Linked DNA regions of Homo sapiens. The protein of the gene in region 2 purifies or fractionates together with the protein of the main gene of each other region. This does not show direct contact. Each region holds a gene or a part of one and is shown on either strand. Other genes may lie near its edges. The genes, in order: ACO2, SLC25A16 and ALDH7A1.

What was found.
Region 1: the proteins of SLC25A16 (region 2) and ACO2 purify together in Homo sapiens (affinity purification with mass spectrometry; one large-scale study listed by BioGRID and IntAct). This does not show direct contact.
Region 3: the proteins of SLC25A16 (region 2) and ALDH7A1 purify together in Homo sapiens (affinity purification with mass spectrometry; one large-scale study listed by BioGRID and IntAct). This does not show direct contact.

What each region holds. Positions count from the first base shown.
Region 1 is NC_000022.11:41,475,455-41,479,182, reverse strand, and holds part of ACO2 (aconitate hydratase, mitochondrial precursor), read right to left. Parts: intron 1-3,728. UniProt on the Homo sapiens protein: Catalyzes the isomerization of citrate to isocitrate via cis-aconitate.
Region 2 is NC_000010.11:68,486,024-68,489,523, reverse strand, and holds part of SLC25A16 (solute carrier family 25 member 16), read left to right. Parts: intron 1-894; coding exon 895-1,057; intron 1,058-2,311; coding exon 2,312-2,380; coding exon of another isoform or gene 2,381-2,384; exon of another isoform or gene 2,385-2,450; intron 2,451-3,500. UniProt on the Homo sapiens protein: May be involved in the transport of coenzyme A in the mitochondrial matrix. Very little is known about the physiological function of this carrier.
Region 3 is NC_000005.10:126,550,220-126,553,947, forward strand, and holds part of ALDH7A1 (alpha-aminoadipic semialdehyde dehydrogenase isoform 1 precursor), read right to left. Parts: intron 3,180-3,728; exon of another isoform or gene 3,083-3,179; intron 1,919-3,082; coding exon 1,802-1,918; intron 75-1,801; coding exon 1-74.

The DNA.
Region 1 (3,728 bases), on a different chromosome or scaffold from region 2:
GTACTTAGTCCCACCCAGCAAATTCCCCCACCTACTCCTTGCTTCAGTACCGTGTATTATAGCTATTTAGATGACTTCTCCCTCACCACCCTAAAAGCTCTTCCACAGACAGGGCCCTTGTCTTAGAGCTCTGTGAACACACTCATGACACAGTGAGTGCTTATAAATACCACAACCACAGATGCCCTGCAGAAGGTCAAGGAGCCCGGCTACAAGGAACTAAAGAAGTGTGGCATACAAGAAAATTAACCAGGTGTGGTGGCGCATGCCTCTGGTCCCAGCTACTTGGGAGGCTGAGGCAGGAGAATTGCTTGAGCCCCAGAGGCAAAGGTTGCAGTGAGCAGAGATCGTGTCACTCACTGCACTCCAGCTTGGGCTACAGAGTGAGACTCCTTCTCAAAAAAAAAAAAAAAAAAAAGAAGATATGTGGCAGGGACAGGGCGGGGGTTTTAAAGGAACTCTAGATACCTCTTTGGTAAGTCCCACAAATGCCCACAGAATTAAAGCTCCCAATCAGAAACCATCTCAATCTCTCCAGGGGGAAAGCAGAAATACTCACCAGGCCTCAATTCACCAAGGGCCTAGACTTGAATATTTCATGATAAAAATAAATACTGCAAATATAACTCTAAAGCTCACTTCCCCAATGTTGTCCTTAGAGAATTAAAAAACTAAACCAAAAGATTCATTTCTACCTCTTCCCCCAACTCTTTTAAAACAGTATTGAAAGGGTTTTCTTGGCCAGGCGCAGTGGCTCACGCCTGTAATCTCAATATTTTGGGAAGCTGGGGCAGCTGGACCACTTGAGGTCAGGAGTTGGAGACCAGCTTTGCCAACAGGGTGAGACCCTGTCTCTACTAAAACAAAAAATACAAAAATTAGCTGGGCATGGTGGTGCGTGCCTGTGATCCCAGCTACTTGGGAGGCTGGGGCAAAAGAACTGCTTGAACCCAGGAGGTGGAGGTTGCAGTGAGATCATGCCACTGCATCCAGACTGAGCAACAGAGCGAGACTCTATCTTGAAAAAAAGGTTTCCTTGAACAACTACCACTTACCTGCTATCTGGGGAGATGATGGGAGGAACAAGCAATTTTCACAACTGGTTTGGTTTTTTTTTTGAGACAGAGTCTCGCTCTGTTGCCCAGGCTGGAGTGCAGCAGCGTGATCTCGGCTCACTGCATCCTCTGCTTCCTGAGTTCAAGCGATTCTTCTGCCTCAGCCTCCCAAGTAGCTGGGACTACAGGCGCACACCACCATGCCCGGCTCATATCTGTATTTTTAGTAGAGACGGGGTTTCACTACATTGGCCACACTGTTCTCAAACTCCTGACCTCGTGATCCACCCATCTCGGCCTCCCAAAGTGCTGGGATTACAGGCGTGAGCCACTGTGCCCGGCCACAACTGGTCTTTTTTAAACGTATGAGCTAAGGATAAAGGCTGGGGTGATGGATGCCGCGGGCCATCTGCAGGGGCTGGAGACAGAAATGAATATTCACCAAGTGCCTCTACCCTGCACTGGATTTGCCCCAAGTACTTTATCCACACAATCCCACGACTACCCTGTGAGGCAGAAGGCATTGTGCCCATTTAATGGATGAGGAAACTGAAGCTCTGGAATGCTAACTGTTTTGCCCAGGGTCACGCAGCAAGGTGGAATTCCAGGCCTGGCTCCAAAGCTGGTGCCCCTTCCTCTGGCCCAGGTGCTGCAGAATAAAACTAAAGAGGTCGGGTGCGGTGGCTCACGCCTGTAATCCCAGCACTTTGGGAGGCCGAGGCAGGTGGATCACAAGGTCAGGAGATTGAGACCATCCTGGCTAACACCGTGAAACCCCATCTCTACTAAAAAAAAAAATACAAAAAATTAGCTGGGCGTGGTGGCGGGTGCCTGTAGTCCCAGCTACGCAGGAGGCTGAGGCAGGAGAATGGCGTGAACCCGGGAGGCGGAGCTTGAACTGAGTGGAGATCGCGCCACTGCACTCCAGCCTGGGAGACAGAGCCAGACTCCGTCTCAAAAAAATAAATAAATAAATAAATAAATAAATAAATAAATAATATGGAAACCATTCTCCCTACCTTTAATTTACTTGGGAGGCTGAGGCAGGAGACTCGCTTGAACCTGATTCTCCTGCCTCAGTCTCCCAAGTAAATGGGATTACAGGTACACGCCACCATGCCCAGTTAATTTTTTGTATTTTAGTAGAGACAGAGTTTCACCATGTTGGCCAGGCTGGTCTTGAACTCCTGACCCCAAGTGATCCACCCACCTCGGCCTCCCAAAGTCCTGGGATTACAGCCGTGAGCTACCATGCCTGGCCCATTCTCCCTACCTTTCAAGACTTCCAAAATGAAGATATTCTACAAGGGGAAAATCTGTCCCTACTCTCAATCTTAGAAATGGCCTATTCCTAAAATAATATCAGAAACTATTTGCAGTGTGTGTGTTTTTTTGTTTTTTTGTTTTGTTTTGTTTTTGAGACAGAGTCTCGCTCTGTTGCCCAAGCTGGAGTACAGTGGCGCAATCTCGGCTCATTGCAAGCTCTGCCTCCCAGGTTCAAGCGATTCTCGTACCTCAGCCTCCCGAGTAGCTGGGTCTACAGGCGACCACCCACACACCCAGCTAATTTTTTTCTATTTTTAGTAGAGATGGAGTTTCACCATGTTGGTCAGGCTGGTCTCAAACTCCTGACCTCAGGTGATCTGCCTGCCTTGGCCTCCCAAAATGCTGGGATTACAGGTGTGAGCCACTGCGTCTGGCCTTTTTTTTTTTTTTTTTTAAGACAGAGTTTCATTCTTGTTGCCCAGGCTGGAGTGCAATGGCACAATCTTAACTCAGTACAACCTCCGCCTCCCAGGTTCAAACGATTCTCCTGTCTTAGCCCACAAAGTAACTGAGATTACAGGCATGCGCCACCACACCTGACTAATTTTGTATTTTAAGTACAGACGGGGTTTCACCATGTTGGTCAGGCTGGTCTTGAGCTCCTGACCTCAGGTGATCCACCTGCCTTGGGCTCCCAAAGTGCTGGGATTACAGGCATGAGGCACCACACCCGGCTCACAATGCTTTATAACACATCAAACAGAGTCAAAACAACTTTTCAAATATTAGGCCTTCAGAACCCTTCTTAACTGAAGGGTAGTTATTAATTACACTGTTTTGCAGATGTGTAACTAACTGCAGGACCACAGAGAGTTGAGACTTTGCCCGAAGCTACCCAGTAAGCCAGTGGCAGAAGTCTCCTAAGGCTCCTGAGGGTCCATCTGCTGCTTTTTTTTTTTTTTTTGAGACAGAGTTTCACCCTGTTGCCCAGGCTGGAGTGCAGTGGCGCGATCTCGGCTCACTGCAACCTCCACCTCCTGGGTTCAGCTGATTCTCCTGCCTCAGCCTCCTGAGTAGCTGGGATCACAGGCATGCGCCACCACGACTGGCTAATTTTTTTTTTGTATTTTTAGTAAAGATGGGGTTTCACCATATTGGCCAGGCTGGTCTCGAACTCCTGAGCTTGTGATCCACCCACCTCAGCCTCCCAAAGTGCTGGGATTACAGGCGTGAGCCACCACGTCCGGCCCATTTGCTGCTTTTTAAAGGCTACAAGAAGTCTCTCTACAATACCTTCCTTCCTTCATGCTGAGAGGCCCAGAGCCCACCACTGCCTTCCAAACCAGGTGCTGGGAAAACGAGGCAAGTCAAAGAAAGCTGGAGCCAAGGAAGACTCAACACTCTCTT
Region 2 (3,500 bases):
TTAATTTTATTAATAAACAACCTTAATGGTTCTAGTATCATGTAATGTTTAACAAGCACTACCTGCATACTATTTTTATCAGATTCTACGTGTTTTGTGAATTAACATAAACGCTTCTCTCATGGTCACAATTCTTCCTTGAAGACAAACTTAGACACTTAGTTAAAATAAAAATGCTTTTTCACTTCTTAATTTTTGCCTGTATCTTACATTATCACCATCACTGTTTTTTTGTTTTGTTTTGTTTTGTGTTTGAGACAGAGTTTCGCTCTTGTTGCCCAGGCTGGAGTGCAATGGCGTGATCTCAGCTCACCGCAAACTCCGCCTCCTGGGTTCAAATGATTCTCCTGCCTCAGCCTCCCGAGTAGCTGGGATTACAGGCATGCGCCACCACACCCGACTAATTTTGTATTTTTAGTAGAGATGGGATTTCTCTATGTTTGTCAGGCTGATCTCGAACGCCTGACCTCAGGTAATCCGCCCACCTCAGCCTCCCAAATTGTTGGGATTACAGGTGTGAGCCACCACGCCCGGCCATCATTGTTATTTTAAATGTTAAGTTGTCACATTTCCTTGTAATTAATAATCATGAATTTAATTTTTCTCATGTGAAACCTTGGAAAACTTTGTTTTTTTTCCACATATAAAGTGGCATTATATTCACTATAGCCTCCTTCAGTGCAGTAAACTTCAGTGGTGCATGAAAACCAAAGCTATAATTTTTTATTGGTGGTAATTTTGTCATCTTTAGGTTATTTATGTACACAAATCTTTCTATTTTAAATTAAGCCAAACACCAGAAATTAGGAAATGTGTTTATTATTTAAGAATGGTGTCTTTTTCACAGCTCATGTTATGTTAAGCATCATGGTGAATTTATTTTTTGTTTTTCAGGTGTTTCATTTTTTACTTTTGGTACCTTGAAGAGTGTTGGGCTTTCCCATGCTCCTACCCTTCTTGGCAGACCTTCATCAGACAATCCTAATGTCTTAGTTTTGAAAACTCATGTAAACTTACTTTGTGGTGGTGTTGCTGGAGCAATAGCGCAGACAATATCGTAAGTTTCTTCACTAACTTAATTTAATCAAATTATAGTTACCCAGTCCTGATTTTCAGCATTGTTTAATCATTTATTTTTTCTAATAGATTATTCAAAAAGAGGATCCTTGCAAAATATAGGTCTCAATTTAATACATTTTTTCAGATGTGTGTGCACTTTAAGCATATTATAAATAATTACATGTTTGGATGCAGTAGTGCTGCCTATTGTCCCAGCTACTTGGGAGACTGTGGCAGGAGGATTGCTTGAGCCCAGGAGTTTGAGGCCAGTCTGGGAGACATAGTGAGACCTTGCCCCTAAGAAAAAAAGAAAGAGGGTGGGCGCGGTGACTCACGTCTGTAATCCCAGCAGTTTGGGAGGCTTAGGCGGGTGGATCACAAGGTCAAGAGATTGAGACCATCTGGCCAACATGGTGAAAACCCGTCTTTACTAAAAACACAAAAATTAGCCGGGTGTGGTGGCAGCCACCTGTAATCCCAGCTACTCGGGAGGTTGAGGCAGAGAATTGCTTGAACCTGGGAGGTGGAGGTTGCAGTGAGCCAAGATTGCGTCACTGCACTCCAGCCTGGGCGACAGAGTGAGACTCCATCTCAAAAAAAAAAGAGAGATTGCATTTGTATATTGTGTATTTAATTTCAGGCAGTTATCTGTATTATTAGTTTTAGCCCTTATGGAAAATTTTGTATTGGTCTACTGTATTCAAGGGGACTTGCTGCATAGCATTAGAGCAGTTCTCTACTGGGGTTGATTTTACCACCAGTGGACATTTGTTAATGTCTGGAGACATTTTTGGTTGTCACAGCTGGGAGAGTGCTACTGGCATCTAGTGGGAAGAGGTCAGGGATGTGCTTAAACATCTCTAGTGCACAGGACAGTTCCCCACAACAAAGGATGATCCAACCGAAAATGTCAGTAGTGCCAGTGTTGGAAACTGTATATTAGTGTTCAACAATGAAAAGCAACCAGTTTGTTTCTTCAGGAACTGGCATTTAATTTGACCTTTAGGAATGAACAGAACTTGATATTACGGTGATGGGAGAGAAGAATCCTCTAATCAGAGGGATCACATAAGCAAAGACTTCTGTATTGTTAATTGATTTTATTCATATGCCTATATCCCGACTCCTAGGTTAGACAGAACAATAAGAGCAGTAACACGTTATTTCTTTGAATTTATAGGGCTTTGTATTCAATAGTTGTTGAGTAGAAAACCAAAAATTTTTAATTCTTTATGCCTTTTTCTTCTTTTAGCTACCCATTTGATGTGACTCGTCGGCGAATGCAATTAGGAACTGTTCTGCCGGAATTTGAAAAGTGCCTGTAAGTTCATCATATGTCATTGTTCATTTTCTTTAGGAAATGTAACATTAAACTCAGTAAGGAGATAGGACTCTAGTTTGACCAATAGTCTGTATCTTCCGTTTTATCTCCCGAAGTTTATTTTGGTAACTTTATAAGATTACAATCAGGCAATCAGGTTCTTTTTTTTTTTTTTTTTTTTTTTTTTGAGATGCAGTCTTACTCTGTCACCCGGGCTGGAGTGCAGTGGCATGGTCTTGGCTAACTGTAACCTCCGCCTCCTGGGTTCAAGTGATTCTTTTGCCTCGGTCTTCCAAGCAGCTGGGATTACAGACACCCACCACCATGACTGGCTAATTTTTTGTATTTTTAGTAGAAATAAGGTTTCACCATGTTGGCCAGGCTAGTCTTGAACTCCTGACCTCAAGTGATCTGCCTGCCTGCCTGGTCTATAATCAGGTTCTAATCCTCCTGTTAAAAATTTAATTTAGGGCCAGGCACGATAGCTCGTGCCTGTAATCCTAGCACTTTGGGAATCCGAGGAGGGCGTATCACCTGAGGTCAGGAGTTTGAGACCAGCCTGGCCAACATGATGAAACCCCATCTGTACTAAAAATACAAAAATTAGCCAGATGTGGTGTCGGGCGCCTGTAATCCCATCTACTAGGGAGGTGGAGGTTGCAGTGAGCCAATTTGGCGACAGAGTGAGACTCCATCTCAATAAAAAAAACAAAAACAAACTAAAAAAAACAAAGAAAATATTAAATTTAGGCTAGTTGTGGTAGCTCATGCCTGTAATCCGAGCAATTTGGGGGGCCAAGGTGGGAGGATCACTTGAGCTCAGGAGTCCAAGACCAGCCCAGGCAACACAGTGAGACCTTGTCTCTATAAAAAAAAATATTATTTTAGAGGTTGTGTTTTTTTTTTTTTTTTGTTTTGTTTTTTTGAGACAAAGTCTCACTCTTGTCCCCCAGGCTGGAGTGCAATGGCATGAACTCAGCTCACTGCAACCTCCCCCTTCCGGGTTCAAGCGATTCTCCTGCCTCAGCCTCCCGAGTACCTGGGATTACAGGTACCTGCCACCACGCCTGGCTAATTTTTGTATTTTTAGGAGAGACGGGGTTTCACCACGTTGGCAAGG
Region 3 (3,728 bases), on a different chromosome or scaffold from region 2:
AGATCTTTGGTAAAGATGCTACTTGAAAGTCCCTGTTTTACTTCATTATTCCATGCAAAGACCTCTTCTTCATTCTAAAAGGAGAGACATTGGAAGCTGTAAGATGTTATAGTGTTCAAGTCAAAGTTCACTGACATTAAACTCATTTCCTGAAGTGTACCAGTATAATTTCAGTGTACAAAAGGAAACCAAAGAGTCAAGTTTACTCACTCTGTTTCTCTTATAATTCAGATCATTGATAATAAGTAAAAAATTTTGGGATTTTTCCCCTAATTATCAGAAACAAATATTAACACATTCTTCCTTTCATTCAAGCTACTACATATAATAGCTAATATCTATTGAGCTCTTACGTGTGTAACACACCAATCTAAGCACTTAACATGCATTTAGTTATTTAATCCTCATCCTATAACACAGGTTTCCTACTACCTCCCAATTTACAGATTGGGCAACTGAGGCCTACAGAGACTAATTTGCTCAAGAGCTCACACAGCCTCATAATGTACACAAACACATTACAAAACACAAAATTATATTCTCTAGTCCCCATACGTGAAACAATGATAGGCAATTTAAAGCAAGAAATAAAGAAGCAATGATGTAATTGCAACAAGATGCAATTCTCACTATTATTTTACTGTTAATAATGGTACATTCAAATATTGATTCAATCTCTGCAGTCTCAAAATTAATCCTAAATATTTACTGGCGAGGCTAGGGCCCGTCTCAAGCTAGGGAATGAGATCTTCTAATTTATCCACCTGTGTGGGTTTTTTGGGTTTTATTTATTTGTTTGTTTTAGAGACAGGATCTCTTCCCACCTCAGCCTCCCGAGTAGCTAGGACTATAGGTACATACAACACCTGGCTAATTTTTTAATTTTTTTGTACAGACAAGGTCTCACTGTGTTGGTCAGGCTGGTCTTGAGCACCTGGCCTCAAGTGATCCTCCCAAAGCACTGAGATTACAAGCATGAGCCATTGTGCCCAGCTTCTTCACCTATTAAAACCTTTACAGTTTGAGATCAAGATATGAGATCAGGGAAAACAAAACAAAACTCCGCAGCCTGTCCTCTGCTGGAGTTTATAACTATAGGTCTTTTTTTTTTTTGAGATGGAGTCTCACTCTGTTGCCCAGGCTGGAGTGCAATGGTGCGATCTCGGCTCACTGCAACCTCAGCCTCCTGGGTTCAAGTGATTCTCCTGCCTCAGCCTCTCAGGTAGCTGGTATTACAGATTACAGGCGCCCAACACCACGCCTGGCTAATTTTTTTGTTTTTTAGTAGAGACGGGGTTTCACCATGTTGGCCAGGCTGGTCTCGAACTCCTGACCTCAGGTGATCTGCCTGCCTCACCCTCCCAAAGTGCTGGGATTACAGGTGTGAGCCACCGTGCCTGGCCAACTATAGGTCTTTGTATTACCCCCACATGTTCTCATTTTGTCTGCTGACATGTTCACAGCACTCAGGCTATCAAACTATCCAGTACCACGGTTCAGGAGAAGGTGACTCTATGGCCTACACAGCCCAGGATTAAGATGACACAGGAAATGAGGACCACACACTTCATAAACTCCAACACTGGTCCACTACCCAATCTGGTTTCCCTGGCAGCTAGCTTGGCATGCTATAGAGTTTTAAAGTGTTTATCTCATATTTTATCCTGAACCTTCATATATCTACTATTCAGATTACTTTCTAAAACCCTCTTAAAGGTTCATCCAGTGAAATTTAATCCACCATCATTTTCCTCTTATCATTTATTTCAACATCAGGCTAGCGAACAGAATGCATTTTTACCTTGAATTTAAAGACATAGAGAATCGGAGCAAAAGTCTCTGTGTGTGCAATGGACGCATCGTGGCCAAGACCTGTCACAATTGTCGGTTCTACATAATTTCCAGGGCGATCCATAACCTAATGCAGAGAAATGAAATAAAAAGAATGAAAGCATTTTGTTTTCTAGGACTTGGGGTCAGAGGATGCAATCTTTGCCTACATTTATAAAGAAAAAAATTAGCATCATTTATAGGTGAATTATTTCTCCAAAATAACTTCCAATCATGAAAGAAAATTCTCTCTTCCTGATATTGGTTCTAACTTAGTTGGTCAGAGAAAAATGGAAATAAGGAGTCAGGCAGGGATAGAGAGCCATGCCATGTGACACAACCAAGTTATGTTGAACAAACACTGCTGCAAGCGGTTATTTTCACTCAGCCTGTAGTGCAATGGCTTGATCTCAGCTCACTGCAACCTCCGTCTCCCGGGTTCAAGCCATCCTCCCACCTCAGCCTCCCAAGTAACTGGGACTACAGGCATGCACCACCATGCCCAGCTAAATTTTTTTTGTATTTTTAGTAGAGACCAGGTTTCACCATTTTGGCCAGGCTGGTCTTGAACTTCTGACCTCAAGTGATCCACCTGCCTCAGCCTCCCAGAGTGCTGGGATTACAGGTGTGAGTCAACATGCCCGGCCACAAACAAATCTTTATATGTGGGGGGTTTTTTGTTTTTGATTTTTTTTTTTTATTATTTGGTTTTTTGTTTTTGATTTGGTCTTGCTTTGTTGTCCAAGCTGCAGTGCAGTGACATCATCATGACTCATTGCAGCCTCGAACTTGTGGGCTCAAGCAATCCTCCCACCTCAGCCTCCCAAGTAGCTAGCACTACATGTGCATGCCACCATACTCAGCTAATTTTTTTTTGAGACAGGGTCTCACTATGTTGTCCAGGTGGGTCTTGAATTCCTGGCCTCAAGCAATCCTCCCACCACAGCCTCCCAAAGTGCTGAGATTGCAGGTGTGAGCCACTGCACCTGGCAATATGTGTTAATTTCTTTTTTAATGCTTATGATATGTATTTTTTTATTCCTTGCCTTAACTGACTTTTTAAAATAACCAATAAATAGATTATAATTGCTCTGAATACAAAGTCTCCTACTGTACTTGAAAAGGAATTTTCCTTTCCATACAAATATTAAGGACCCAATTCAAAAGCAACCATGACTCCGTTTCTTCTATGTCCTTCCAGAAATGTCCCATGCATTTTCTGCTGTCTTTTTTTAAAATATGGAATACTTTTTAAAATACGGATATGAATTTGCATATCATCATTGTGCATAAGCCATGCTAATCTTCTCTGTATCTTTCCAATTTTAGTATATGTGCTGCCAAAGCAAGCATTGTTGTCATTCTTTAAAACGTGTATTTCTGGCTGGGCACGGTGGCTCACGCCTGTAATCCCAGCACTTTGGGAGGCCAAGGACAGTGGATCACGAAGTCAGAAGTTCCAGACCAGCCTGGCCAACATGGTGAAACCCCTTCTCTACTAAAAATACAAAAATTAGCTGGGCATGGTAATGGGTGCCTGTAATCCCAGCTACTCGGGAGGCTGAGACAGGAGAATCGCTTGAACCTGGGAGGCGAGGTTGCAGTGAGCTGAGATCACGCCACTGCACTCCAGCCTGGGCAACAGAGCAAGACGCAGGAGCCTGAGGTGGGAGGATTGCTTTAGTCCAGGAGGAAGAGGGTGCAGTGAGCTGAGATCGTGCACCACTGCACTCCAGCCTAGGTGGCAGAGCAAGACCCTGTCACAAAAACAAACAGAGCCAAGTGTGGTGGTTCATGCCTGTAATCCCAACACCTTAGGAGGCCAGGGTGGGTGGATCACTTGAGGCCAGGAGTTAGAGACCAGCCTGGCTAACATGGGAAACCCCATCTCTACCAAA